7 linked regions of the Homo sapiens genome follow. The protein of the gene in region 4 interacts with the protein of the main gene of each other region in a pairwise test. Each region holds a gene or a part of one and is shown on either strand. Other genes may lie near its edges.

Region 1 (4,096 bases), on a different chromosome or scaffold from region 4:
TGAGTACAAATCCCTGGGTGTTTTTTGTCAGGGAGGAGTGGGGAGTAGGCAGGAAAGAGAAGAGGGTAGGAGGCAAGGTAAGGTATGAGCATCACAGTGGCTGCCTCAAGACCCTGCCCAGGGAGGGTGGGGTGGGCTGGGGGTTGAGCACGGAGCTCAGGTCCGGAGGAACACCATGGTGAGGAGGCCTGGAGGGGGGACAAAGAAAGAATAGGGTCGCATGGGCAGCCCTGGGGCTCTGTTAGCTCTCCTCCCGTCCCTTCTCCCTTTTTCCTGGGGCCTGGGTCCCTGGCCACTACTGTCCTCACCCAAGACGTAGGCGGCCACCAACTTTTGTCCCAGGGAGACGTGCAGGACTTGAGGCAGCTGGCTGCCGAGTTCGTCCGGGAGTGGGAGCAGCAGGAAGGCCACAGACACAATCCCCGTCAGCAAGAAGAGGAGGAAGGAGCTGGTGGCCAGTTGCTGGCGGGGGTCTGAGAAACAAGACTCATCAGATGCTGCAGCCCCCACTCCTGCCCAGCCCAGGTCCTCCAGGGAGAAGCCTGAACAAGGAAGATGTATCTACTTTTTTTTTTTAATTATCTTTTATTTTTTGTAGAGATGGAGTCTCACTACGTTGTCCAGGCTGGTCTGGAACTCTTGGCCTCAGGTGATCCTCCTGCCTTAGCTTCCTAAGTAGCTGGGACTATGGGTTCATGCTACCATGCCCGGCTAATTTTTAAGTTGTTTGTAGATGGTCTTGCTATGTTGTCCAAGCTGATCTTGAACTCCTGGCCTCGAGCAATTGCAATCCTCCCACCACTTCAGCCTCCCAAAGCACTGGGATTATAGGTGTGAGTCACCACACCCTGTATCTACTTTTTTTTTTTTTTGAGACGGAGTCTCACTCTGTTGCACCCAGGCTGGAGTGCAGCCACACAATCCTGACTCACTGCAGCCTCTGCCTCCTAGGTTCAAGTGATTCTCCTGCCTTAGCCTCCCGACTAGCTGGGATTACAGGTGCGAGCCACCACTCCCAGCTAATTTTTGTGTGTTTTTAGTAGAGACGGGGTTCCATCATGTTGGTCAGGCTGGTATTGAACTCCTGGCCTCAGGTTATCAGCCCACCTCAGCCTCCCAAAGCACTGGGATTATAGGCGTGAGCCATCACACCCTGTATCTACTTTTTACTGCCCTCCAGGGGTACACTGCAAGTGTCCTCTCCTTCCTACAGCCTCTGTCCCCACCACCACAAGAACTCTCTCCTCCAGTCCCTCAGCATTCATTTTCTCTCTTCTGTGGACCTATCCGACAGGCAGGGACCTCTCTTGATCTCATACCCAGCACACAACTTGGTACAGGGTTAATTGCTCAATACAGGTTTCTTATTGAACTGAACTGAGCTACCACATGATAGGAAGTACTGCGGTTACAGTCAAGGAAGAACTTTTTCCTCTAAGTAGAAGTCAGAAACCAGGGAAGCTGTAAGTCTTTTCCCCCTCACCTGATATAAAATCTCAACTCGGAGGAATGTTTCCACCAAAAGACAAAAGACTGAACCAGGAGACTTCTTCAAATCCAATTTATCTCATCTCTAGGGAAATGCTAGTTCCTCCCTCCCTACAGAACTCAAGATCCCAGTCTCCCAACTCACGCTCCTGGAAGTGTCTGGCCGTGGGTGGTGGTGTCCCAGCAGGAGGCCCTGGGCGAGGCGCTGGATCTGGCTGTCCCTGAAGCTCAAGGGGGTACGCTGGGGCTCTCAGAATGGAGGTAATGTCCTTGCGTCCCACCACTCGGCCCTCAGCTCCTTCCTCAGACAGCTCAATGCGGAAGCGGTCCTGGACATCATAGTGGCTGGGAATGGGTGCCACATGGCGAATCACACTGGTCCCAAGGTAGGAGAGAAGCCCATTGGGGTGAATGAGGCAGTAATCCAAGGAAATCTGGGCCTCCCCCCAGAAGTCTCTCCCTTAGGGGCACAGGCAGAGGATAGGGCAAATAGGTTAAAGGGGGCAAGGTCTCAGACCTCAGACAACAGGTGGCAGCGACCCCTGGCTTCCACAAGCCTCCCCACCCTCCCAGCTCACTCACATGTCAATGCAAGACTGGGGCTTCACATATCCCTCTGCGTCAAACACCGTGTATTTGGCAGGTGCTGTGCACAGGACTGGGGGATAGAGACACACACAGACAAGCCCTGCCATGTGGGTCATTTAAGTCCCCTCTGCCTTCTGCCCCGGAGGCTGGACATGACTTTCCCAGTCCACCAAAGCTGGACGTGCAACCCTACCCATCTGACTCCTCCAGCCAACACAACCCCCCAGTGTCCGGCCACCAGCCCCCACGAGGCGCCGATCCCTTTACCTCGGAAGCGAAGCGCAGTTCCTGTGGGGTTATAGAGGGTCAGCAGCTGTCGGGGTCCGCTCCGCTGGTCCGCCCTGAATACTAGATCCGGGGGAAAGACCAGGACCGGGACAACGGGTCCCAAGGGAGGAGGGGCGCCCCGGGACCCCCGCCCAGGGGGCCCCGGACCCACCAGCTCCTGGTCCTGGGGCGCCCCACGGCGCATGCAGGCTCTGGGCGGTCGGACATCCGAGGGCAGAGCTCAGGGGACAGGGCCTGGAGTCAGAGCTGGGGGGCGTGAGGGGCGAAAGGGGACAAGATGAGCTCCCGGAGCAGGGCCTCGACTGATGCCGCCGCCGCCTTGGAACCCCGCTAGATGGGGCTCCCGCAGACCCAGGCCCAGGGCCCCCAAGACCTTTCCTCTTCCAGCTCTGCCCCAGGTTCCTTCGGACCCGCCGAGCCCCACCTCGACGGCCACGCCCACCCCGCTAAACCCGGCCCCTCGCAGCTCCCAACCCGGCCTTCTCCTCACGCCCAGCTCACGATCTCCATAAGCCCCGCCCCGCCGCTGGCCTCGCCCCTTCCGGGCGTTCCCGGACGCCCGCCTCCTCTCTCCAGCCAGACTCCGCCCGCTGCAGCGGGCGCCTGCAGAGCGACCTGTGACGCCGCCTGCTTCCTGGGAGACCTGTGTTTGCGTCTCCGGCCCCTCCCTAAGCTCGGACACGGGCCCCATCGGGCTTCTGCCTCAAAACGGTCGCTCGCGTTAGGATGCCCACCTTGTGGTTAAAGCACCTGCCAGTCAGCTTGTGGTCAGATTAATGTTGCCATGTTCCAGAGAGTCCTTTTCTATACTTCCGCCGTACGGCCTCTGTCATTGGCTAGGACGTCTTTGTTTCTGCCGTAACTATACGCCGATTGGTGTGCTGAAAGACCAAACAACGCCCTCCTTCTGTCGTCTGCGATTGGCTGGATTCCGGTGACGTAACAGTTGTACTGGCTCGAACTCGAGCCCTGAAGTAACTCAGAGAACCGGGGGCGGGGTTTCGAACTGGGCTTTGTTCTTTCCTCCCTATTCTTGAGATGGTCCAAGTCAATCTCCCACCGGGAAGCCCTTTTCCTCCTCTTCATTCCAGGCTCTAGAAGCCTCTGCAGGAACCAAGCCTGTTTTCTTTGCTTTTTTTTTTTTTTTTTTGAGACGAAGTCTCGCTCTGTCACCCAGGCTGGAGTGCAATGGCACGATCTCGGCTCACTGCAACCACCGCCTCCAGGGTTCAAGCGATTCTCCTGTCTCAGCCTCCCGAGTAGCTGGGATTATAGGCGTGCGCCATCACGCCCGGGTAATTCTTTGTATTTTTAGTAGAGACGGGGTTTCACCATGTTGGTCAGGCTGGTCTCGAACTCCTGACCTCAGGCGATCCACTTGCCTCAGCCTCCCAAAGTCCTGTAATTACAGGCGTGAGCCACCGTGCCCGCCCTCTTTTTTGCTTTTTTAGAGACAGAGTCTCACTCTGTCGCCCAGGCTGGAGTGCAGTGGCGCTATCATTGCTCACTGCAGCCTCCAACTCCTGGGTTCAAGCGATTCTCCTGCCTCAGCCTCCCGAGTAGCTGGGATTACAGGCGTGCATCACCATGCCTGGCTTTTTGTAATTTTTTGTAGAGACGATCTCGCTATGTTCTGCAGGCTGTTCTCGAACTCCTGGGCCCAAGCGATCCTCCCACTTAAGCCTCCCAAAGTGCATGAGAGCCACTGTTCCTTCCCCAGGCTCAAAGTCTG
Region 2 (3,218 bases), on a different chromosome or scaffold from region 4:
GAGCTCTGCTTTCTTTGCATGGCTTCACTCTCAGGCAGTCCCTTTATGGGGTGGCAGAGACAGCCTGTGGCAGCTTCAGGCTTCCATGCACCCCACTCAGCCACCCCAGAGCAATGTGAGCCCTTATTACCCCCGAGCTTAAGCACAAGTCTTAGGCAGGCTCAGATTGGCCCAGCGTGAATCACTTGCCCATCCCTTACTGAGCATCATGGACAGGGGGCTGGAATGCTCCGACTGGCTAGGCCAGGGTCGCATGCCACTTTCAGAGAAAGGTTAGTAGGTTTGGTGTATGTGTTCGGGGGTTGGGGGCAAGGATCCCCAAGGGAAATAGAGGAGCACTTTGCAGAGAGCCTGGGTGGGGTCTGAGGCCATCCAGATCCTTCCTCAGGGCCTCCACCTCAGGGGTCTCAGGAGACCCACCTGGGGTAGCTGCTCATCTCACAGGCTGGTGCCCCTCTCCTCCCGCCCCTGCAGATGCTGATGTACATGTTTTATGTCCTGCCTTTCTGCGGCCTGGCTGCCTATGCTCTCACCTTCCCTGGTTGCTCCTGGCTTCCAGACTGGGCCTTGGTGTTTGCTGGAGGCATCGGCCAGGTGAGGTGGCGGATGGGTGGGTGAGCAGGCATGTGGGAGGGAATTTCTGTCTACTCATCAATGCCTTTGGTGTCCTCCCTGGGCACTGTAATGATGAGCCCCCAAGAGGCCCCAGCCCCAGGCCCAATATCCCAGGATTCCCTAGTCTAGGGGAGACAAAGCCAGATACAGACACTCCAAGCCCCATGAAAATAGGGACAGGGGCTGTGAAGGATTCCAGAGGGGAAAGGTTTCCTAGAAGCAAGGCATAGGAGCTAGGCTTTGATGTACGAGGATGAGTTCTCCAGGCAGGGAAGGGCATTCCAGGAATGGGAACAGCACAAGGAGAAGCACAGAGGGAGAGAGTGACTTAGCAGGGCCATAACCCAGGTAAAGGCAGATAAGAGAAATTGGCAGCTGGATGCTGAAGGCTTTGAACTCTGGGACTAGGGGCTTGTACTGAGGGTGATGGGGCGTTTGAGGAGGAGTTTGAGCAGTGAGGGGCCCAGTCAGAGCTAGGAGCCTTTTTCTGGGTTCCTGATGAAAAGTGCTAAATCCTGGGCCCCGGCCAGGGAAGTAGGGACCAGGAAAACATTTAGAATCCACAGGATTTGTGCCAAGACCTCTGGGGTGGGGAAGACTGGGAGGAGGATCTGGAGCCAGGTCAGAGAGAGATGGGGTGCAGGGCCCAGGAGATGGGGTTAGGCAAGTTGGGGGGGACTCACAGACAAGTGGACAAGCACAGGGAGGGACAGACAGGACATGTAAGGGCAGGAATCTTTACAGACAGAAGGCCAGGTGAGGTGGCTCACACCTGTAATCCCAGCATTTTGGGAGGCCGAGGTGGGAGGGCTGCTTGAGCCCAGGAGTCTGAGACCAGCCTAGGCAACATGGCAAAAACCTGTCTCTACAAAAAGTACAAAAATTAGCTGGGCATGGTAGCACGTGCCTGCTGTGCTAGCTACTCGGGAGGCTGAGATTGGAGGATCACTTGAGCCCAGGAGGTTGGGGCTGCAGTGAGCCATGATTGTGCCACTGCACTCCAGCCTGGCCAACAGAGCAAGACCCTATCTCTAAATAGATAGATAGATAGATGGATGGATGGATAGATAGATAGATAGATAGATAGATAGATAGATAGATAGATAGAAATTTTAAAAATAGGCCAGGCATGGTGGCTTATGCCTGTAATCCTAGCACTTTGGGAGGCCAAGATGGATGGATTGCCTGACCTCAGGAGTTCGAGACCAGCCTGGGCAACATGATGATACCCCATCTCTACTAAAAATACAAAAAATTAACTGGGCATAGAGGTGCACGCCTGTAGTCCCAGCTACTCAGAGGAGGCTGAAGCACGAGAATCACTTGAACCCAGGAGGCAGCGGAGGTTGCAGTGAACCGAGATTGCACCACTGCACTCCAGCATGGGCAACAGAATGAGACTGTGTCTCAAAAAAAAAAAAAAAAAAAAACAGATAGATGGACTGGAGATGGGAAACAGATAGATGAGCAAAGCCCGAGAGGTGGGGATGGGCATCCCCTGGGTTCTGCCTGACCTACCTGGGGGGCTGTCGGTGATGCTGGGATTTCAGTTCCTTCCTGGCCCCTGACATCCATCTTCCCTGTCTGGCTACCAGGCACAGTTCTCGCACATGGGGGCTTCCATGCACCTGCGCACACCCTTCACCTACCGTGTGCCTGAGGACACCTGGGGCTGCTTCTTCGTGTGCAATCTGCTGTATGCGCTGGGCCCCCACCTGCTGGCCTACCGTTGCCTTCAGTGGCCCGCATTCTTCCACCAGCCACCACCCTCCGACCCCCTAGCCCTCCACAAGAAGCAGCATTGAGAGAGCTGTGGACTCAGGACCCAGGACTCTGTTTACGTGCCCAGTCAGCCCTACCTGGGGAAGCGGGGGTTGGGTGTTTTAGAGACAGGAGGGACATCTCCGGGTGTCTTTAGTCTTGGCTATGGTAGTTTCAGTCCAGTGGGTGGGATGGAGACCAACGACCAAGTGTTCCTGCAAGGAGAGCCTCCCACAGCTGTCACCATGCTCCAACTCCCACACAAACGCTTCTACCCCTTCCAGAACTTACCCATCATCCCCCCATGGATCCTTTCAGTAAAAACCCTTTCAATTTCCAAAATATCACTGCCTAAGTGTTTCAGGGTGCAGGGGCAAGGGATCCTCTTCTTGGCCCCCATGAGGGCCCACCTATCACTGCCATCGTGGTTGCCAGGAGTGAGAGGTGCTGGGATAGCAGAAGGCGGCCTCTGGTTGGTATGCACGGCTCATCTTCCAGATGGGAAAACCGAGGCTCAGTATGGACAAGAGACCTGCCCAAGGTCATGGCCAGAGAGAAAAGTTCCTGCTCTACCAATAAATCATAACTAATAGCATGATACATTTATTAAGCACCTACTGTATACCTTGACTGCTACATGCTGGATCTCACTCCATATTCCAGATGGGGAAACCAAGGCTGCAGGAGGTGAAGGTCCTGGTCTGAGATCATTCCCCCGCTCAGTCCCCAAGGCATGGCTGAGCTAAGAGATGGAGCCCCAGCCTGTTGGACCACAGAAACCACAACTCTGCCTCTCCTATCTGGTCGGGTTGGGCTCATTTTAGGGGAAACTGAGTCCTGGA
Region 3 (4,150 bases), on a different chromosome or scaffold from region 4:
GGTGCCACTGCACTCCAGCCTGGGCGACAGAGTGAGACTCCATCTCAAAATAAATAAATAAATAATAAAAAGAGACTAGCAAATTAACCCAAAGAAAGTAGAGGAAAGGAGTCCAGGTGCGGTGTCTCATGCCTATAATGCCAGCACTTTGGGAGGCCAAGGCAGGTGCAATCACTTGAGGTCGGGAGTTCACAACCAGCCTGGCCATTGTGGTGAAACCCCATCTCCATCAAAAATATACAAAAATTAACTGGGCGTGATGGTGGGCGCCTGTGGTCCCAGCTACTTGGGAGGCTGAGGCAGGAGAATGGCATGAACCCGGGAGGCGGAGCTTGCAGTGAGCCGAGATGGTGCCACTGCACTCCAGGCTGGGCGACAGTGAGACTCCATCTCAATAAAAAAGAAAAAAAAGAGGGGACACAGATACCCAAGCCAGCCCAGAAGTCGGGGCAGAGCCAGCCACTGTCCTGGGAGGCCTGTGAATGAGCCCCTGTGGGAACAGGACGTGTCACTTCCTAGCGACTCAGGAGCCCTGACAGCCAGGACAGACCCCTGGTGCCCACAGACAGGACAGGGGTCATGGAGGACCTCCCGCCATCACTGCTGACTCACCCCTGCTAGCGGCCGGGGGAGGAAGCCCTAGCGGGTACCTCCGGTGAGCTCATGCCAGCCTGCCCGCTCCCCACGGCATTCCCGGGGCCGCACGTCACAGGCTGGCAGGAGCCTATGGGCCTGCAGTAAGGGCGGAGGAGGCCACTCAGACAGCAGAGGGGTAGGGGCTCAGACAGGCCCCAGCTCAGCCCCTTCCTAAGCTCTCCAGGCCTGTTTACGGTCTGTTAAAGGGCAGCCCTTCCTTCATCCTGGCCGGGGTGGGGAGAATGGAGCGTGGAGGCAGGTGGAGCCTGGCAGACTGGGAGGGTTTTTCCTGGACAGGCGACCCACACCAACCTGAGGGGGCAGCACAGACAGGCTATGCCCCTCCCCAGATGCCCCGTGCCCGCCCGACCTGCAGCAGTGGGCAAGCTGTGAGCATGGGGAAGCCAGGGAGGGCGTGGGGTGCAGACAGCAGCTGAGCGCCCTGGGCCACGTTTCCAGACAGCACAGCCAGGTCTGGACTTTCGCCGCCCCGCCTGCTCTGCCCCACCCTGGCCAGCACTCACCAGCCGGGCTGGAAACGACTCCTCTGCAGGACAGGTGGACAGAAGCTCCCCAGGACTCTAGGCTAGAGGGGCAAGGACATGTCAGGTCACAGGTTACAGGTCTGGCCCAAGGGCCAGAGTGGGCCGGGTTCATTCTGGAGGCAGAGAGAGGAGTGGCCAAGCCCGGTATTTTAGTCTGGGCTAGGGTGGGGCAAGGCACAAGACATTTTGTTTTTTTCTTTTTTTCTTTTTTTGAGATGGAGTTTCGCTCTGTCACCCAGGCTGGAGTGCAATGGCACGATCTCAGCTCACTGCAACCTCCGCCTCCTGAGTTCAAGCAATTCTCCTGCCTCAGCCTCCTGAGTCACTGGGATTACAGGCACCCACCACCACGCCCAGCTAATGTTTGTATTTTTAGTACAGACAGAGTTTCACCATGTGGACCAGGCTGGTCTCGAACTCCTGACCTTAGATGTTCCACCCGCCTTGGCCTCCCAAGGCAGACGACATTTCGGGACAGTCTGATCCTGGGAGGGACCTCATACCTTCCCCCAGGTGCCCCACTCTTGGCCTTCGCTCCAGACCCATCACTGGCCCTTCCCCCACAAACAGCGGCAGCTACAGCCTGGGAAAGAGGCATCATGGAATGGAGCTGGAGGGGGACAGACCTTACCACTGAGCTGAGAGGGGATATTCACCCTCCATGAAGGAGCCAGGGCCTAAATACACGCAGGAAGGGTGGCACAGGCAGACCCTGCCACCAGCGGGGGGATGTGTCTGCCACCGGGGGGCGGGGTGTGCGTCTGCCACCGATGGGGGGATGTGTGAGCCCCTCAAGGACCTGCCCCTGGCCTGGCTGTAAGGTCCCAGGCTTTCTGGAGAAGTTGGTTCTGGGCACAGATGCGTCCTCCACCGCGAGGACACAGGCGACCCGCTGAGGAGTGGCCCCTCTTCCCAGGAATGCCTGGTCCCTCTGGACCCCCTGGGAAAGGGCCTTCCAGAAATAGTTGTCTGTTCCTCCCCAAGTCCCCGGGACCTGCACCAGGCCCCTGGGCGGCCCGCGCCCTATCAGGGGGAGCCCCAGTCAGGGGGACCTGGGACTCCGCGCCTGCCAAGCGTCCCCGGGGCACTGCAATGAGGTCACCGCCGCCGCCGACCCCGCCCGGCGCGGCCAATGGCGCGCCCACTTGCACGCGGGCGGGGGCTGCTGCGGGCGGAGGGAAGACTGCCGTGTCCAGGGACAATGAGCAGGGTGTCCAGGCTGCGCGTCCCGGGACCCCTGGGCTGAAGGGGGCCGTCAGGCCGGTCCAAGGGCCCGGGAGGCGCCTCTCCTTCCCGCTGCGCCTCCCCAACCCGCCCGGAGTCCGCCTCCCGCGGAAGGGCAGGCGAGGGAGCTGGGGCAGGCGAGGGAGCTGGGCCAGGCGGTGGGTGCGGCCTCCCGGAACCTCCCGGCGCCTGCGGCTGGGCCTCCGGGGCTGGGGCGCGCAGGGCCTTCGGCCCCCTCGCGCCCCTCGCCCCCCTCGCGCCCCTCGCCCCCCTCGCCCCGCTCGCCCCGCTCGGCCGAGCTGTCGTGGCCGCGCACTCACCTACCACGCGTCCGAGTCCGGGCCCTGGCGGCGGCGGCAGCAGCTGCGGGGGCGGCGGCTCCCAGCGCTGAGAATGCGCGGCCCGGAGCCTACGAGGGGGACGCCCCGCCCCGCCCCGCCCCGGCCCCGCCCCGGCCTCAAGCCCCTCCCGCGGCGGCGGGCGCTCGGCAGGTCTGAACCCGCGTGGGTGTAGGCGCTGGGGGTCGACCTGGCACTGCGGAGGCCGGGCGAGCTGCAGCCCTGGGGGCGCCAATAGCCCAGCAAGGGCCCATCCCGTCCAAGGACGGAGGAGCTGGGCGGGAGGCGGGCCCGGAGGTAAGACGGCGACCAGCCTAGCCAGAGGCCCTGGGCTGTGGCGACCCGGCCCTCCTCCATGCCCAACCCCCATCTCTTTCTCCTCACCCAGGAACCGCCCAGAGGCTGCAGGGGTCGGCAGAACCGATGCCGGCCTGGGGCGTGGGAGGGCCTAGCGCTGTGGGCAAATGCGGGAGAAGGGCTACTGTACGTGCAGTGTGGACAGCCTGGAGACCCGGGCAGGCCTGGGGTCCCAGCGAGACATACCCATGGGGTCCTGGGGGGCCCATGCCCTCCAGACTGGAAGGGACCACTGGGAGCGGTGCGAGGAGGTGAGGGACGAAGGGCAGGGCCGGCCTAGGGCTGCACCAAGACGCCAAGAGTGGGAGTGAGGAAGGAGGGGGCTGCCCACCCACCAAGCTCATTCATCACAGCCACAGGGGAGGACCAGCATGGGAGGGGGTGGCCGACTGAGGCCGGGAACCTGCCCGGCCTCCCTGGCGAGACAGTGGGGAGCCCTGATCCACACACTGGCGAGGGCCCCGAGGGGCTCCAGCCTTGATGGGTAGTGTGAGTTTGGGGCATGACCAGGGACACAAGAGGACACGCAGGACCTCAGCCCCATCGCCACAGGCCCGCGCTCCCTGTATTCACCCACACAGCACGCGTGCACAGGTGCCCACCTCATCCATGTGGCACACACAGGCTGTGGCTCCCAGACACACGGAAGGCCCAGGAGGACGCAGTGCAGTCAGTGGGTTTTATTTGACGAGGGGGTTTTCTGCTGAACTGAGATGGGGTTGATTGAACGGGGACAGAGCGAAGACTGGCAGAGGGCACACACGGGACCCTGGCCACTCCCGGGACCCTGACCACTCCTAGGCTAGGTCCTTCATGTCTTCAGTCAGGCGAGCCTGGGGCCCACTGGGGAGAGCCTGCATCCTGAGTGGGCACCCCCGACCCATGACAAGCCTCCTGCAAGGGCAGCTTCTAGCTCATGGTCCGTGAGTCACTCGGGGCTGGTCACCGGGCACTGGGAAGGTGGCCAGAGCCGCGTCTGGGGGGCCGAGCCCAGCAACAGCAGCAGCAGCAGGTGGGCCCAGGCAGGCGGGCTGTTGTCAGAGCCTTCCT
Region 4 (3,500 bases):
ACTATAAATATGTGCAGTTTGTTGTAAGTCAATTATACCTCAATGAAACTCATTAAAATTACCATATTTTGGGGATCTATTTCTAGAATCTCTATTGTGTTTTATTGATCTCTGTGTCTATCCTCTAGTCAATACTATACTGTTATGATCACTGTGGTTTTATTTTATAGTATGTCTTTTTTTTTTCTTTTTTTTTTTTTTTTTGTGATGGAGTCTTGCTCTGTTGCCCAGGCTGGAGTGCAGTGGCACCATCTCGGCTCACTGCAAGCTCTGCCTCCCAGGTTCACGCCATTTTCCTGCCTCAGCCTCCTGAGTAGCTGGGACCACAGGCGCCCACCACCACGCCTGGCTAATTTTTTGGATTTTTAGTAGAGACGGGGTCTCTACTGTGGTCTCGATCTCCTGTCCTCGTGATCCTCCCGCCTCAGCCTCCCAAAGTGTCGGGATTACAGGTATGAGCCACTGTGCCCGGCCACTACTTTATAGTATGTCTTAAATTGGGTAGTATGAGTCTTTAACCTTGATCTTTCTTCAAAATTGTTTTGGGTATTCCAGTCCTTTACTTTTACATATATTTTATAATGAACTTGCCTATATCTACAAAGACTCATGCTGGGATTTGTTTGGAATTGCCTTAAATCTACAGATCAGTTGGGGGCTCTGGCATTTTAACTCTTTTTTTTCTTTCTTTCTTTTTTTTTTTTTTTAGTATTTATTGATCATTCTTGGGTGTTTCTCGGAGAGGGGGATGTGGCACGGTCATAGGATAATAGTGGAGAGAAGGTCAGCAGATAAACACGTGAACAAAGGTCTCTGGTTTTCCTAGGCAGAGCTCCCTGCAGCCTTCCGCAGTGTTTGTGTCCCTGGGTACTTCAGACTAGGGAGTGGTGACGACTCTTAATGAGCATGCTGCCTTCAAGCATCTGTTTAACAAAGCACATCTTGCACCGCCCTTAATCCATTTAACCCTGAGTTGACACAGCACGTTTCAGAGAGCACAGGGTTGGGGGTAAGGTTATAGATTAACAGCATCCCAAGGCAGAAGAATTTTTCTTAGTACAGAACAAAATGGAGTCTTCTATGTCTACTTCTTTCTACACAGACACAGTAACCATCTGATCTCTCTTTCTTTTCCCCACATTTCCCCCTTTTCTTTTCGACAAAACCGCCATCGTCATCATGGCCCGTTCTTGATGGTCACTGTCTCTTCGGAGCTGTTGGGTACACCTCCCAGATGCGGCGGCGGGCAGAGGCGCTCCTCACCTCCCCGACGAGGGGCGGGCAGGCAGAGACGCTCCTCACTTCCCAGACGGGGCGGCCGGGCAGAGGCGCTCCCCACTTCCCAGACGGCGCGGCCGGGCAGAGGCGCTCCTCACTTCCCATTCGGGGCGGCCGGGCAGAGGCGCTCCTCACCTCCCAGACGATGGGTGGCCGGGCAGAGGCGCTCCTCACTTCCCAGACGATGGGCAGCCGGGCAGAGGCACTCCTCACCTACCCGATGGGGCAGCCGGGCAGAGGCGCTCCCCACTTCCCAGACAGGGTGGCGGCCGGGCAGAGACGCTCCTCACCTCCCAGATGCGGTGGCGGCCAGGCAGAGGCGCTCCTCACCTCCCAGATGGAGCGGCCAGGCAGAAGCGCTCCTCACTTCCCAGACGGGGCAGCCAGGCAGAGGCGCTCCCCACTTCCCAGACGGGGTGGCCGGGCAGAGGCGCTCCTCACTTCCCATTCAGGGCAGCCGGGCAGAGGCACTCCCCACTTCCTAGATGGGGTGGCGGCTGGGCAGAGACGCTCCTCACATCCCAGACGGGGTGGCGGCCGGGCAGAGGCGCTCCTCACCTCCCAGACGGGGCGGCCGGGCAGAGGCGCTCCTCACTTCCCAGACAGGGCGGCCGGCCAGGGGCGCTCCTCACATCCCAGATGATGGGCGGCCAGGCAGAGACACTCCTCACTTCCTAGACAGGGTGGCAGCCAGGCAGAGGCGCTCCACACTTCCCAGATGGGGCAGCCGGGCAGAGGGGCTCCTCACATCCCAGACGATGGGCGGCCAGGCAGAGACGCTGCTCACTTCCTAGACGGGGTGGCGGGCAGGCAGAGGCTGTAATCTTAGCACTTTGGGAGGCCAAGGCAGGCGGCTGGGAGGTGGAGGTTGTAGCGAGCCGAGATCACGCCACTGCACTCCAGCCTGAGCAACATTGAGCGTTGAGTGAGCGAGACTCCGTCTGCAATCCCAGCACCTCGGGAGGCCGAGGTGGGCGGATCACCCAAGGCCAGGAGCTGGAGACCAGATCGGTCAACATGGCGAAACCCCATCTCCACCAAAAATACAAAAACCAGTCAGGAGTGGCGGCGCGTGCCTGGAATCCCAGGCACTCGGCAGGCTAAGGCAGGAGAATCACAGGAGCCCGAGGCAGGGAGGTTGCAGTGAGCCGAGATCATGGCAGTACAGTCCAGGCTCGGCAAGAGAGGGAGACTGTAGAAAGAAAGAAAGAAAGAAAGGGGAGGGGGGAGGGAAGGAGAGGGAGGGGGAGGGGAGGAGGGGGAGGGGGAGAGGGGGAGGGGGAGGGAGAGAGGGGAAGAGGGAGAGGGGAAGAGGGAGGGGGGAGGGGGAGGAGGGGGAGGGCTATTCCAAGGATTCTTGAGAGCTATGCTGTATCCCAAATTTATGAAAATAAAAATGGAATTTTCTGCTGAAATCCTTATAAGTTACAAAGGACCACATTTTAAGTCATGGAAAAACAGGTTAGGAACAAACTGAATAATAAAAGACCTTGAGAAAATCATGGTAAATATGGCATTTGAAGACAGAAAAATATTGAAGTACTCGTTTGTAAAAACAAACATAAAAAATGAGATGAAGTATAAGTTTTATTTATATATACATAAGATAATTACTTTAAATAACTAGATTTATTACCTGATTCCAATGATGGCCGGTCTGTCTCATCTTCATTCTTTAACTGCTGTGTTAATGCCTCCTTATAATTTTCTACTAGTCCAAATTCATTATTTTTTTGGCCATTGTGATTAACCTGGCCTTGTGTCTCTATTTGCTCATGCTCCATTTTATGTTTCAGGTGGCAGCCATCACTGTCTTTCTCCATTTTTTGGTTTTTTTTCTCTCTTTCAAGTTTTCCTTCATTCTAACAAAAAATAAAATACATTATCTTTACTATGATGGTTTTATCTAAGATAGTTTTAAGGGAGAGGAAATCAAATACCTTAACAGGATTCTGTAACTTCAAGGACACTGTGAGACTTCTATTTTAAAAATGATTTCATGAATACATCATTAAAAGATGCTAAATGTCAAACATTCAGTAAAACAGAAAGTATAACAAAAGCAAACAAATATTACCAGTAATTCCACAATCTAGAGATGACTACTATTCATCTGTATTATTCCGTATATAATCTGTTCAGTATATAATCACTAAGAGATGATTTTCTCTGCCAACCCCCACACATACATACCTATATCATGTACAGACATACATCACCCA
Region 5 (3,500 bases), about 80 Mb from region 4:
CCCGTGCCCAGGCTGTGCCGTCACCCAGAGGGCCTCTCCCACTCAGCTGCACTTGGCCAAGTGCAGCTGTGCATGCGACTGAACTGAATCTGCCTGGCGCAGGAACCTGATCCTAGCGCCCTGACCCTCCTATTTGGAGAGCCCAGGCCTCTCCGCACACCTCTGGATACTTGGGATTTTCGCTGTGGTAGAAAAAGTCTCCACGGCGAATGATGTCCACATGAGGGTCCTCCAGCTTGGATAGGCTCAGGGACTTGAAGTTGTCGACTTTGTCGATGAGGCCTGAGGGGACCAGAGTGGTTAGAAACCCAGGGGACCAGGTGAAAACCTCAATCTGCAAAGTCCCTGGCCTGACCCCCTTCCACTGCACCCCTGGAGCCTGCACACGTGGCACTCCCACCTGCAGTGCCTCTTTCTGACTCTGTCTCGTCCACGGCTTCCCCTGGGTTAGACCATCTCCTCCAGGAAGCTTTCCCTGTGCCCTCTCCCACCAAGTCAGAGTGACCACAGCACTGGGAGTGGCCTTAGCCCTTTTCCCTTCCATCAAGGTTACGGCCATCCACGTCCAAGCCTGACTCACCTCCTGGGTTGAGAGCTACTTGAGGGCAGGCCCAGCTGGCACACAGGCACCATCCAGCAACAAAGCACACAGAAAGCGGCCAGGCCAGGCCCAGGATCATCCAGCCTCCCCAGGACTATCTGGGCCCTTGGTATCCTCTCCCACCTTCATGGGTCAGGCCCAGGAACAGAGCCCCAGGGTTACTCTGGCCCATGGTGCCACCTTATCCCTTGCAAGCTTCTCTTTGGAGTCAATGGGGGATGCCTGTGATAAGCTAGTGCCTTCCTGGGACAGGTGGAACTCAGAGAGGGGGAGCCCTAGGCTGAGAGCACTGAGCCACCACATGTCTACTACTAGCCGGAGTCTGCTTGAGGAAGGACTGTCTCAGCAGAGTCTACTCAGCAGACACCGGCACGCAGCAGGGTGAGGATGCATGCCTGAGTCATTCTCTGGAACAACCCAGATTTCAGAGGAACCTGGTAGGATGGAGTGGGGTGGGGGTTTCTACGTCAGCCCTTGCTTCCTGGGGATTCGCCTTCCCCTGGCCCCCAAAGCATGGTGCTGGGAAAGGTGCAGACTGATCCTGTGCCTTTAGCCCTCTGAAGGCTGAGTACTGGGAGCTCCGGCCCTAGGGGGGCCTTGTGCTTCTGGCACGAGCTCCTCTGGAGAGGCCTGAGACTTACCTGACGAGAGGAAAAACCTGCCAATTTGGACAAAGGGGGCTGTTGCCATGAATGACTCCACTGCCATGGCACTGTGGGAGAGAGGAAGCTGTCAGAGATGGGCACCGGTGTGGGAGCTGCCCGGGTCCCTTTGGGTTGTTTGTGCTGGGCAGGGTCCCCACCCGGGGGTTCCTGCAAGTCCAGATTAGCCCAGGCGCAGCAGACATCTTGTCCTGTCCACCCCCAGGGGCCCTGTGCCCCCTCCCCTGGGCTGAGCACCCTCACTCTGTCTCCTGTTCCCCGGAGCTTCCTACCCTCTTGCCTAGACCCCTGCCAGCCTGTCCTGCCCCACCCACTGCTGTCAGATGTATCTTGCATGGACTTTACACCCCTCACTAGCCCCTCCCAGAGCATTCCATCCCAACCATCTTACTGGCACAGCCCAGACCATTGCTGAACAAGGCCTGCTCTCTAGCCACACCCAAGTGTTATGCCCGCCTCACCACTGGCATGCCGTGGAGCTAACCTCCCTCTGCTGAAATCCTGAGAAGCCTGAACAAATGCCGCTGCCTCTGGAAAGCCTGTCCTGATTGTCCTCCCACCCATGGCAAACCATTAACAAAATGCTTCCCCGGCCCCGTGTGTGCAAATCCCCTTAGACGCTTAGTGCAGGCCTTATATTTGTGACTTGTTTGCGGGGAGCTTGTCTGGGGTCAGGGGAGACAAGTCTCTGTGTTCCTGGTGCCCAGCACAGGGCTTGGTCTCAAACCCATGTCCCACATTTTCAACCCACGAGGCAGGATTAACTCAATCCTGTTATTCAGATGAAGAAACTGAGGCTGGAGACCTGCCAGTGTAGACAAAGCTGCACTCAGGCCTTGGGCCTGGCTCTCACCTGGGGTTTTTGTGGCCAATCTCTCGGTCGAAGTTTTTGCTGTTGATGATTTCTGACCTCCATTCAGTGTCTGCTCAGGGAGAGGAATCAACTCAGAGCCCGGGTAGGAGTGGCACGCGGCTGAGACCCACCAGCCCAGCTCCTCCTATCTCACAGCCAAAGGGGTGGGTCAGGGAGCCTCAATGGATGGGTGGGAAAGCAGGGCTCTGAAGACTTGCACCCAGGGATCCTGATGCCTGGTGCTGAATCCTTCCCATGGCCCCACCAACAGCCCTGCTGTCCAGCCACCACTGTGGGCCCCCACCATGGGCAGAGACCACGTAAGGGGCCCAGCACTCACTGTAGGAATACCTCGTCTCCTTCTTCACCTGCCCATCCTCGGTGTACTCCCTGCAGGGAAAGCAAAGCAGCCACGGGGGTTAGCCTCGTCGCCCCAGGCAGTCTAATCTCTAAGCATCTGAGCAGGAAGCAACCTCAGGGCTACCAGATCAGACTCCCCAGATACGGCAGATGCCTTCTCTACACCAGCCCCAAGACAGGGCACTCACTCCTGACAGACAGCCAGCTCCTGCCCTCCAAGGCGCTACCTGGAGGAAAGCGCTCTCCCATCCTGAGCTGAAATCTGCCCGCACTGGCCTTACACCAAGGGGCCCAGCCCTGCCCTTTGGGCTCAGAGATCTGGCTGCATCCTCTGCTCCAGGACAGCCCTGCGGGGGGCCTCTTGAAGCTGCCCTTCTCCTGCTCCTCCCACCACCTCCCCACCTGTCGGTCACAGTCCATATGATTCAGGTGGGGCTGAACCCACCCCCAGCTCCAGGTGACCCCAGCCCTGATCAATGAGAACCTGCCCTGGGACTCCTGTCAGAAACGATAAGCTGTAAGTAGAGCAAAGATGGGACCAACACAGCTGATGGGAAGGCTGAACACAGAGAGATGCAGTGGGGTCTCGGGGTTGACATGCTGATCCTAATGACAGTGTTTCAGGCCTGCTCCAAGTCATGCTTCAAGCTTGTGCATCTCTGGAACTTCCCAGATGTGGGAGCAACTCAATCCCCCTTTCCTCCTGGAGCCACTCTTCACTGGATTTTTGCCACTTCCAAATCACTGGCTATTAATTTGGGGATCATTTCACACTTTTCTGATAGGAAGATGTTATACTTGAGTTTCAAAGGTATCAAAATGAAAGACATCTGCATGTTATCCTGACACCTACACTTCACTCCTCCTTTACCCCAACAGAGTTTTCACCCCAACAGCTCACCTGGACTCCTCAGTTTCTACCCATTGGTACATCTCCACGTGCCTCCGCAGTTTCACAGCCGGAAGATGGACCCCATAGTTTGGATCAGACAAAAGCTTCAAACAGAATCAAAGAAACCAAAAA
Region 6 (4,140 bases), on a different chromosome or scaffold from region 4:
AGGGTGGTGCTACATGCCTGTAGTCCCAGCTACTCGGGAGGCTGAGGTGGGAGGATTGCTGGAGCCCCGGACTTCAAGGCCGCGGTGAGCTATGATCCCACCATTGCACTCTGGCCTGGCCAACAGAGTAAGACCCTGTCTCAAAATTAAAAAAAAAAAAAAAGGAAAAAGAAAGAAAAAGAAGAGAAAAGGCCAGTGAGGCCACTGCCACACAACCACTGAGGGGCAGGCAGCTGGCTCCATACTGCCAGACGCCCTCCTCCCCGGACCGCGCAGCCTCTGTAGCCTTCGCCTGCCCCCGCATTTCTCCTTGGCTCCTACCTCCCCTCTCGGCTGCACTTAATGATTTCCCGGATTCTTACAGACCATTGGGATCGCTTCCTTCAGAGTGTTTTGGGAAGCCCAGCACGCCCCAGCTTTCTCCCCAAGGGGCAGGCTGCTCTCAGGAGCGGGAAGCCCATCCCCACCTTCATCCCTCTGGCCCAGAGGAGGCTTCCTTCCCTGGAGGGCTGAGGCAGCAGGCAGCTGGGTCAGCCCATGCCTCTCGCATGTGGCCATCTGAATCATTTCCTTTCGCAATGTGTTACTCAGTTTCAGGGCCTGCCACGTGGGGGTGTTTCCATTCCTTTCTGCAGCTGGACTTGGTGGACGTGGGGAACGTGGCAGTTGTGCCTTTCTCTGGACAGCGGAGGACCTCCCTGGACCCCAAACACCTAAGTCCTCATCACCTCCGTTTCTTTTCTATAAAATGGAGGTGATGACACTTGATTTGTCTAACACTTTCTTAGTTGTAAGACAAACAAGATGACCCAAGCGAAGGGGCTGAGTAGACTCCAAAGCAGTGCCTCTCAGTTGAGGGCTGGGAGTGGATTCTGCCCTCTCGGGGACATCGGTTGTCACTCCTGGGGGAGGGAGCTACTGCGTCTAGAAGGTAGAGCCAGGGACGCGGCTAAACATCTTATAACACACAAGACAGCCCCTACAACGAAGCGTTAGCCAGTGCCAAATGGAAATCACGCGGAGGTGGAGAAACCAGCCTAAAGAATGATTGAAAAGTAGTAACATTTACGATGGCCGGGCGCGGTGGCTCACACCTGTAACCCCAGCACTTTGGGAGGCCGAGGCGGGCGGATCACCTGAGGTCAGGAGTTCTAGACCAGCCTGGCCAACATGGTGAAACCCCATCTCTACTAAAAATACAAAAATTAGCCGGGTGTGGTGGTGCATGCCTGTAATCCCAGCTACTTGGGAGGCTGAGGTGGGAGGATCGCTTGAGCCCAGAAGGTGGAGGTTGCAGTGAACCTTGATCGCACCACTGTACTTCAGCCTGGGTGACAGAGCAAGACTCTGTGTCAAAAAAAAAAAAAAAAAAAAGCGAGAGAGAGAGAAAGAAAAGTAGTAACATTTACGGGGAACTCACTCTGTGCCAGGTACTTTACATGCATTATCTCATTTAATTGCTCCAGCACCCTATGAGGCGGTATGGTTATTACTCCCATTTTACAAATGAGAAAACTGAGGCACTGAAGAGTTAAAGAACTTACCCAAGTCCCACAGCTAGAATAGGATGGAGCAGGAATGAATCCTGGGGGCTTCTACTTCCCAGGCCCACTCTTTTTTTTTTTTTTTTTTTGAGATGAAGTTTCGCTCTTGTTGACCAGGCTGGAGTGCAATGGCGTGATCTCAGCTCATTGCAGCCTCTGTTTCCCAGGTTCAAGTGATTCTCCTGCCTCAGCCTCCTGAGTAGCTGGGATTACAGGCACCTGCCACCACGCCTGGCTAATTTTTGTATTTTTAGTAGAGATGGGGTTTCACCATGTTGGCCAGGCTGGTCTCGAACTGCTGACCTCAGGTGATCCACCCACCTCAGCCTCCCAAGACCCACTCTTAATCTATGTGCTACAGAGCATGTTTCCAGTCTGCCTATGGTGAGGGTCTCACATCCATGCCTGAACAAATGCTGTTTTGCAAAAATGTGCACTATCCTTCCTCCACTCCAAATATAAGCAGATGCTATTGTGATGAATAAATGCAAATTCTTATAAAGTGTTAATAAGTCAGTGTTACTTTTCTGACATTATGCATTTTCCTCAATCAAGGGAATCTAGAAAGTAAACTGCAATTACGTTGCAGGAGTCCATGAAAATCTTTCCTCTCTAAAACAAGGGAGCCTCAGGATCTAAAAGGCAGGAAACCTACGTGACAGATCTGAACTAAATTCAAATCAAGCAACGCCTTTTCTGAGTTTATCTTGCTTTCATGCAGCTCAGCTATGTTACTTGCTGAAAAAATTAACTGCCCTGAAGCCAAAAGCAAAACGAAAGCAGAGCGAAACATCTCACCAACCATAGAAGGATTTTGCAGCTAACATGTTTGGTTCAAGTTGGGACAAATGAATCCTTTGGGTCTCTTCCATTCAGTTACAGATCCTGCTGTTAAAGGCTGTTCCAGTAGAATGATTTCCACAGAGCACTTGTCTCTAAACCTCTCTCCTCCCTATAAAAGACCACCTGCTGGACAAGACTTTCCCCCTCTCCCCACCATAATCCCTCCCAACACAGAGTTCCCTCTGCAACACCAGGAGCCCCCCAGCGACTCTCCAGGAAGGCTGCACAGGCCCTGGCAGCCAAGCCTGCTCTTGGCCCCTTTCCCTGAGCAACACACTCACCCCTTCCTTCATGCTCTGATCCTGTTGCTCCATGCTTGCTCTGGAAGGGCAGAGTGCCGCTCACCTCCTTTTAGCCAAAGTAACGCGTGCACTGAATGGAGAGAGAAGACATTCTGGGTGCACTTTGGCCATGCCAAATAACAGCCAATAGCATTTTTATAGCCAGATTAAGTCAGAATAACCCTTTCAGGAACCTGGTCTTCCTTTCACTTCTGCTTTTAAATGAAACGTCTGGGGTTTGGCTAAGTAAGTGGGTGCCCCCTGGGGACTGCAGGCCCAGCATTGTCCTGATGGAACAGTCTACGGTATTTCCCCATTGCTAAAGTCTCTACCAGTCAGGCTCATGGTGAATGACTGGAAGGGTTATTTCTGTCAGGAACGCATGGCAAACAACAGCTGTCCTCCACCCTACATGACACCAGGTAATCTGAGGGCAACAGATTGGGCCACTAGAGACCTCAAAGATGCTCTCCCTGCCAGGAAAACTACAGTCAAGTGTCTCTTGGTGGAGAGTCAGTTTTGCCCAAGTCACCGTGTAATACTGTTTGGGGAAAGTTTCTCATTTTCTGTTTTTTTTTTTTTTTTTTTTTTTTTTTGAGACGGAGTTTCGCTCTTGTCCCAGGCTGGAGTGCAGTGGCATGATCTCAGCTCACTACAACCTCCGCCTCCCGAGTTCAAGCGATTCTCCTGCTTCCACCTCCTGAGTAGCTGGGATTACAGGCGTGCACTACCACGCTCGGCTAATTTTTATATTTTTAGTAGACACGGGGTTTTGCCATGTTGGCCAGGCTGGTCTCGAACTCCTGACCTCAAGTGATCCACCCTCCTTGGCCTCCCAAAGTGCTGGGATTACAGGCGTGAGCCATCGTGTCCGGCCTCTTATTTTCCATTTTAAGGAGCTCAGAATGACCTAGGGATGTTACTTTCTGTGTATTCATCACTACTGGGAAGGTGGTAAATACCTCGAACCCCTTTCCAGGCAGGGCAGGGAAAATGAGTCACACCTGCTGGTCCGGGTCCGGCCATCTCAAGGCCAGGCCACTGTCAGCCCCCCATGTTTGGCACTCATTCAGCTGCCACAGGGCACACCAGCGCAAGTGGCCAAAATCCAAAGTCTCACAAGTCCCACAGGTTTTCATCTTTACAGAACATACTCCCAGTTCTATTTGCTGTGGCGTAAATCCAGTTACTTTAGTGATTGATTCTGAATCTCATGCATCTTTAAACAAGCAGAGACTGGGAGCCTGTGTTAGGCACTGTTCCTTGCATTAGCAGCAAATCCCCAGGGTTGCTCAGGGTGGGAGACTGTGAGAAGCCTAGCAGCGTGGCCGTCTGTGTGTGTGTGTGTGTTGGGGGGTCGGGGGGGTCCCTATTCACAAGGGAGAACTCAGCATTCCCTTTCACCAGCTACTGCCTGTCTTTTTCTTCTGCGTATCACTGTCCTAGCACACTGACTTGTGACTAACGCATAG
Region 7 (4,189 bases), about 54 Mb from region 4:
CCTTATGTTTCATTGTCCCACAGCTTTCAAAGAAAACAAGTCTTTTAATTCAGCAAGTATTCACTGAATGTCTGACACCCCCAGTGCAGACCCTGTCCCAATCCCCCAATGGGGTCCACCTCTATCCAACTCTGGGTGAATGACCATGGTGCTCTTGCGCGCGGGCACACACACACACACACACACACACACACACACACACACACAGGCACACACACATAACTCAGGCTTGGGGCCCACCTCTCTGGGCTCAGAGGTATCAAAGCAGGGGCATTCCTATCTTAAGGACTTCTTGTCTTAGGGGCTTTGGCCCCACCTGCACAGGACAGAAAATTAGTGGATTTCTAGGAGAAAGCAGGCTATGGCAGGGTATAGCCAGGGACTCAGCTCTTCCTTCCAGACATGCAGGAACCATAAGGAGGGATGGTCAAACAGGGCCTGCTTAGGCCTCTTGCTGGGATCACTCCAAGGGTCTCTGGGGTCACTCAGAGGAGCCGGGAGGCTGCCTGCTGCTGTACACTGAGACAGACTCCTGGGGTGTTTGGATCACGGCAGCCCACATGCTGCCTTTTTGTTATCTTTTCTGTTTTGCCTCTTCCGGGCTGTACTTGTCTTGAGTTTTTGGCCTTATGACATCCATATTAAATGGGGTAGGGCAGAGCATTGCTCAGTAAACAGCAAGAATGGCCCTGGGCATGGCCAAGGCAGTTCTGCTAAGTGTGAAAGGGAATGTGCCTGCCATACTTTGTGCTTTAGGCCCAAGTGACCTAGGGGCCAGCCTGCCTACTGGCCTCACTCCCAACATTACAGGTGTTTGACTCTACTCCACCCCGTGGAGAGACGGAGCACAGGAGCCACCCACCGGGGGACCACATAAGGTCATGCACACCCACAGAGTGCCCAGTCCCTGCCTGGCCTTGTCCCCATTTTCCCTCCACCTAGGGTTGGGGTGACAATGGAGGTAACTAGAAGACAGATCAAAAGGTTCTTGGTCTTGACACAGATGCAAGAAGGAGGCAGATAATAGACACCTCCCTTCCCCCTCGCCCACATAGGCTCCGGTGGGTTCTCAGGGCAAGGCCTGGCTCCCTCCTCTCCGACTTCAGGTACAGGTGAGTGTGGAGGGAACTGAAAGAGGAAAGGTGAAGTGCTGTTTGGCTTCGACCTGGAGGGGGACAGAAGGCTCTCTGGGCAGGCAGGGCCGGTCTTTTGGCAAGAGGCGCGCTCTCTCTCCCTTCCCCTTCCATCGAGGGCTGGGTGTGAAGGTGAGAGCAATCAGAAAAGAAGGTGAAGAGGTACTTGGCCTTGACACGGACGGGGGGGGCGGTCCCAGGCCGAGGCCGCCCCGCCCCCGCCCCGCTATACCCGGCGCCGCCTCCCGGCGTCTGAGCTGACACCTCCTTAGCGCTGGCCGCGGGCCGCCTCTGCGGCAGCGCTAGTCGCCTTCTCCGAATCGGCTCCGCACAGGTAAGATCAGGGGACCCGGCGCCTGAGCTGCCGAGGAAGGAGTCGGGGGTGCTGCGTGAGACTGAGAGTTGGGAGGCAAAGAAACAAAATCGGATTTCCTCAGAGGGCCAGAGGAAGAGACTGAAACACGGTAGCCCCAAATCCTTGGGCGGCTGGGAGGTGGTCCCTGTCATGCCCACGACGGGTGGGCGCGTCTTTACCGACAGCCTGCATGGATCCGCAGATGTGCTGGGCGCTTAGATGCCTGCGGCTATGCAGAGACGCAGTCCAGAGAGGTGACCCCAGATCCTGGTGGGGGCTGGATCCCAGGGCCCCGACATCCCTTTGCAATTTCCAGCCAGCAGCTAAAGACTCCCTTCCCGGGGCTTTAGAGAGGCTCCAGGCTCGCGATCCATGAACACACAAAAACCTTCCTTGCTCATGTTCTGAAAAAAAGCCCCGCCTCAGCTTTGTGAATGTTAATAATAGGGGGAAGATTTGTTCTCTCTTGGGTGTGTGTACAGGTGGAACAATCTGCAGAAAAAGACCTTTTTTCGGAAAACCTTTTCAGTTTGAAGTTTCAGCAAATCCATTTTTCATTTCCTTTCATTTGGGGAGATGACATGAAATTTAAGCTCCAGCTTTGGGGCTGTCTCTGAAGTTCTGGGGTTCGGCTTACCTTTCCCGGGATGAGGTTTTGATTTGGAGGAAGTAAAATGGGTTTTGTCTTAACCTGGGCTCGTTCTTTAAACTTGTGAGGCCGGGGCGGTGGACTTACTGACATCCTGTATTCTCTCACCTGCAGCTAGGAGAAAAGATGTTCACTGTGCTGACCCGCCAACCATGTGAGCAAGCAGGTTAGTATCTCTCAGCAGGTAGCAAGCGTGGTTTTGCCAAATCGCAAGAGAACCCCAGCTTCGGCCTACAGTTTTTCATCCATATCCCCTGCAAATGATTGTTTAACTTTATTGGTTTGAGACTCAGTACTCAGCTGGGTTTCAACACCGGCATTCCTCAAATAAAAGTAATGCTTTTCATCAAAGCCACACAAAACAAGGACTAACATGCATGTTTCACTTAAATGGTTTTTCCGGTTTGTATAATCCATTAATTTGGCCCTTGTGGTTTCCCTTAGCTAGCTGTGTGTAACGTTTGCTTTAGAATACTGTATTGTTGATTTTGTGATCAATTGTACAGTACTTGGATCTTTCCTGTATTCCCATCCAAATGTTGCTGGCACAGTGCCTACAACACCCCCACCCCTCACTGTGAGTCAGTGTTGTTATGGTTGATACTGCAGGCACAAGTGCAGGATTTTCTCACACTGGAAGGCACACACACACAGACACACACACACACACACACACACACACACACACACACACTTCTAAGCTTGCCCCGCCTGCCTCTAGAGCACTTTTTGGAGTTGCTCATGTGGAAGCCCAGAAGGCTCTGGCTTCTCCAAGCTCAGGTAGGTACCTTGCAATTACCATGTTTGTCCAGCCCTAATGACAGCACAGCTCTAGGCTGCATTTCCTAAATGAGTAAGACCTGGTCTCATCCATTTTGCTTTGTAATAAGCTTTTCTGCAAGGACAAGAGTTTGCTTAAGGTAATCATAGCTTTTTACTTGAAAACTGCTGAAACACAGAAGACTTAGGAGGCCAGCCACGTAGCTGTGGTCAGGAAACTGCATACATATCACACACTCCTCCCCCATGGATAGACATTCTTTAGTCATGCCCCTAAATTGGGTATTCTTGTCTTCCAAAAGGATATGATTTTAGGATAGTAAGGGCAATCTATATGAACTTTTATTTTTGTAAAGGGACATTGCACTTGAGGAGCTGTTTTCCTTTGATCTTTAGGTTTTCCCCCAAAACACTTTGAAATGTTAACACAGATTGTAACGTCACTCATACAGACTAACCTGTTACATTCCTTCCAAAGGACAAGTTTAACTTGGCAGATTAAATTTCTACCCCATTTTGTTAGAGGGAAAAAATCCCTTAAACTTCTATAACTAACACTGACAAATGCATTCTTTGAAAGCTAATGCAAAAGTTTGCCTCTGTGGATTAACTGGTTCCTGTACTTTTATTTGGAATCACAGAAAAGTGATACAGGACCTCTTTACATGCTCTGCAGGTCAACTCCATGGCAGTTGGCTCTCCTTTCCATTGCTATTACCCACAATTCTGTAATGAGTAACCTTGTGTCTAAGTCATTTTACACATGTGGAGCTAGTTCTGTGGGATAACTTCCCAAAAGAGTGATTGTGAGTCAGATGGCATGCTTATTTGCAGTTTTCATAAATATTGACAAGTTGCCCTCCATTGATGCTGTACCAGTTTACACTTTCAATGACAAGGTAGGAGGATTAAGGTGTTAAGTGACCAACTTTGACACCAAGAAGTGTCTGTGACTGCAGCTACACTGCAGGGGAATCAGTTGAGATGGAAAGAGTTAGCTGTTCTGAGCCATGAAGACCTACTGCGTGACTGCCCTCCTGTAGCAAATGTTGTGATGTGACTGAATTTGGGGGCTGAATCTAATTATATCGTGGGCGCATAGACATGCCCTGTTATTCTTCTGGGAAAATGGCTTACAGAAATAATGGAGGGGTAAAGCATAGGTTATAATGATCTAGGAATAATGTTCTGGAATAAGACAGGATCTATCCAATTGCTGTTCAATTGATCTTCCTATAATGATGAAAATGTTATATGGCTGCACTGTCCAAT

Evidence for each region.
Region 1: the proteins of ARL13B (region 4) and MOSPD3 interact in binary tests that used the Homo sapiens proteins (3 or more experiments, as listed by UniProt).
Region 2: the proteins of ARL13B (region 4) and TM6SF2 interact in binary tests that used the Homo sapiens proteins (3 or more experiments, as listed by UniProt).
Region 3: the proteins of ARL13B (region 4) and CD151 interact in binary tests that used the Homo sapiens proteins (3 or more experiments, as listed by UniProt).
Region 5: the proteins of ARL13B (region 4) and TMEM43 interact in binary tests that used the Homo sapiens proteins (3 or more experiments, as listed by UniProt).
Region 6: the proteins of ARL13B (region 4) and SLC2A5 interact in binary tests that used the Homo sapiens proteins (3 or more experiments, as listed by UniProt).
Region 7: the proteins of ARL13B (region 4) and ENTPD3 interact in binary tests that used the Homo sapiens proteins (3 or more experiments, as listed by UniProt).

The regions. Positions count from the first base shown.
Region 1 is NC_000007.14:100,611,244-100,615,339, reverse strand, and holds the start of MOSPD3 (motile sperm domain-containing protein 3), read right to left. Parts: upstream 2,801-4,096; 5' UTR 2,549-2,800; coding exon 2,344-2,548; intron 2,147-2,343; coding exon 2,071-2,146; intron 1,864-2,070; coding exon 1,634-1,863; intron 474-1,633; coding exon 309-473; intron 189-308; coding exon 157-188; 3' UTR 1-156.
Region 2 is NC_000019.10:19,263,866-19,267,083, reverse strand, and holds the end of TM6SF2 (transmembrane 6 superfamily member 2), read left to right. Parts: intron 1-474; coding exon 475-594; intron 595-2,210; coding exon 2,211-2,420; 3' UTR 2,421-2,718; downstream 2,719-3,218. UniProt on the Homo sapiens protein: Regulator of liver fat metabolism influencing triglyceride secretion and hepatic lipid droplet content. May function as sterol isomerase.
Region 3 is NC_000011.10:831,602-835,751, reverse strand, and holds the start of CD151 (CD151 antigen), read right to left. Parts: upstream 2,801-4,150; 5' UTR 2,726-2,800; intron 1,760-2,725; exon of another isoform or gene 1,685-1,759; intron 1,223-1,684; 5' UTR 1,161-1,222; intron 1-1,160. Other genes in the region: CRACR2B (EF-hand calcium-binding domain-containing protein 4A), read right to left, coding at 4,043-4,150. UniProt on the Homo sapiens protein: Structural component of specialized membrane microdomains known as tetraspanin-enriched microdomains (TERMs), which act as platforms for receptor clustering and signaling.
Region 4 is NC_000003.12:94,042,655-94,046,154, reverse strand, and holds part of ARL13B (ADP-ribosylation factor-like protein 13B), read right to left. Parts: intron 3,141-3,500; coding exon 2,915-3,140; intron 1-2,914. UniProt on the Homo sapiens protein: Cilium-specific protein required to control the microtubule-based, ciliary axoneme structure. May act by maintaining the association between IFT subcomplexes A and B. Binds GTP but is not able to hydrolyze fit; the GTPase activity remains unclear.
Region 5 is NC_000003.12:14,131,552-14,135,051, reverse strand, and holds part of TMEM43 (transmembrane protein 43), read right to left. Parts: intron 3,473-3,500; coding exon 3,378-3,472; intron 2,507-3,377; coding exon 2,457-2,506; intron 2,190-2,456; coding exon of another isoform or gene 2,187-2,189; coding exon 2,117-2,186; intron 1,314-2,116; coding exon 1,243-1,313; intron 283-1,242; coding exon 161-282; intron 1-160. UniProt on the Homo sapiens protein: May have an important role in maintaining nuclear envelope structure by organizing protein complexes at the inner nuclear membrane. Required for retaining emerin at the inner nuclear membrane.
Region 6 is NC_000001.11:9,066,836-9,070,975, forward strand, and holds the start of SLC2A5 (solute carrier family 2, facilitated glucose transporter member 5), read right to left. Parts: upstream 2,801-4,140; 5' UTR 2,702-2,800; coding exon 2,669-2,701; intron 1-2,668. UniProt on the Homo sapiens protein: Functions as a fructose transporter that has only low activity with other monosaccharides. Can mediate the uptake of 2-deoxyglucose, but with low efficiency. Essential for fructose uptake in the small intestine.
Region 7 is NC_000003.12:40,385,795-40,389,983, forward strand, and holds the start of ENTPD3 (ectonucleoside triphosphate diphosphohydrolase 3), read left to right. Parts: upstream 1-1,389; 5' UTR 1,390-1,467; exon of another isoform or gene 1,468-1,597; intron 1,598-2,251; 5' UTR 2,252-2,263; coding exon 2,264-2,303; intron 2,304-4,189. UniProt on the Homo sapiens protein: Has a threefold preference for the hydrolysis of ATP over ADP.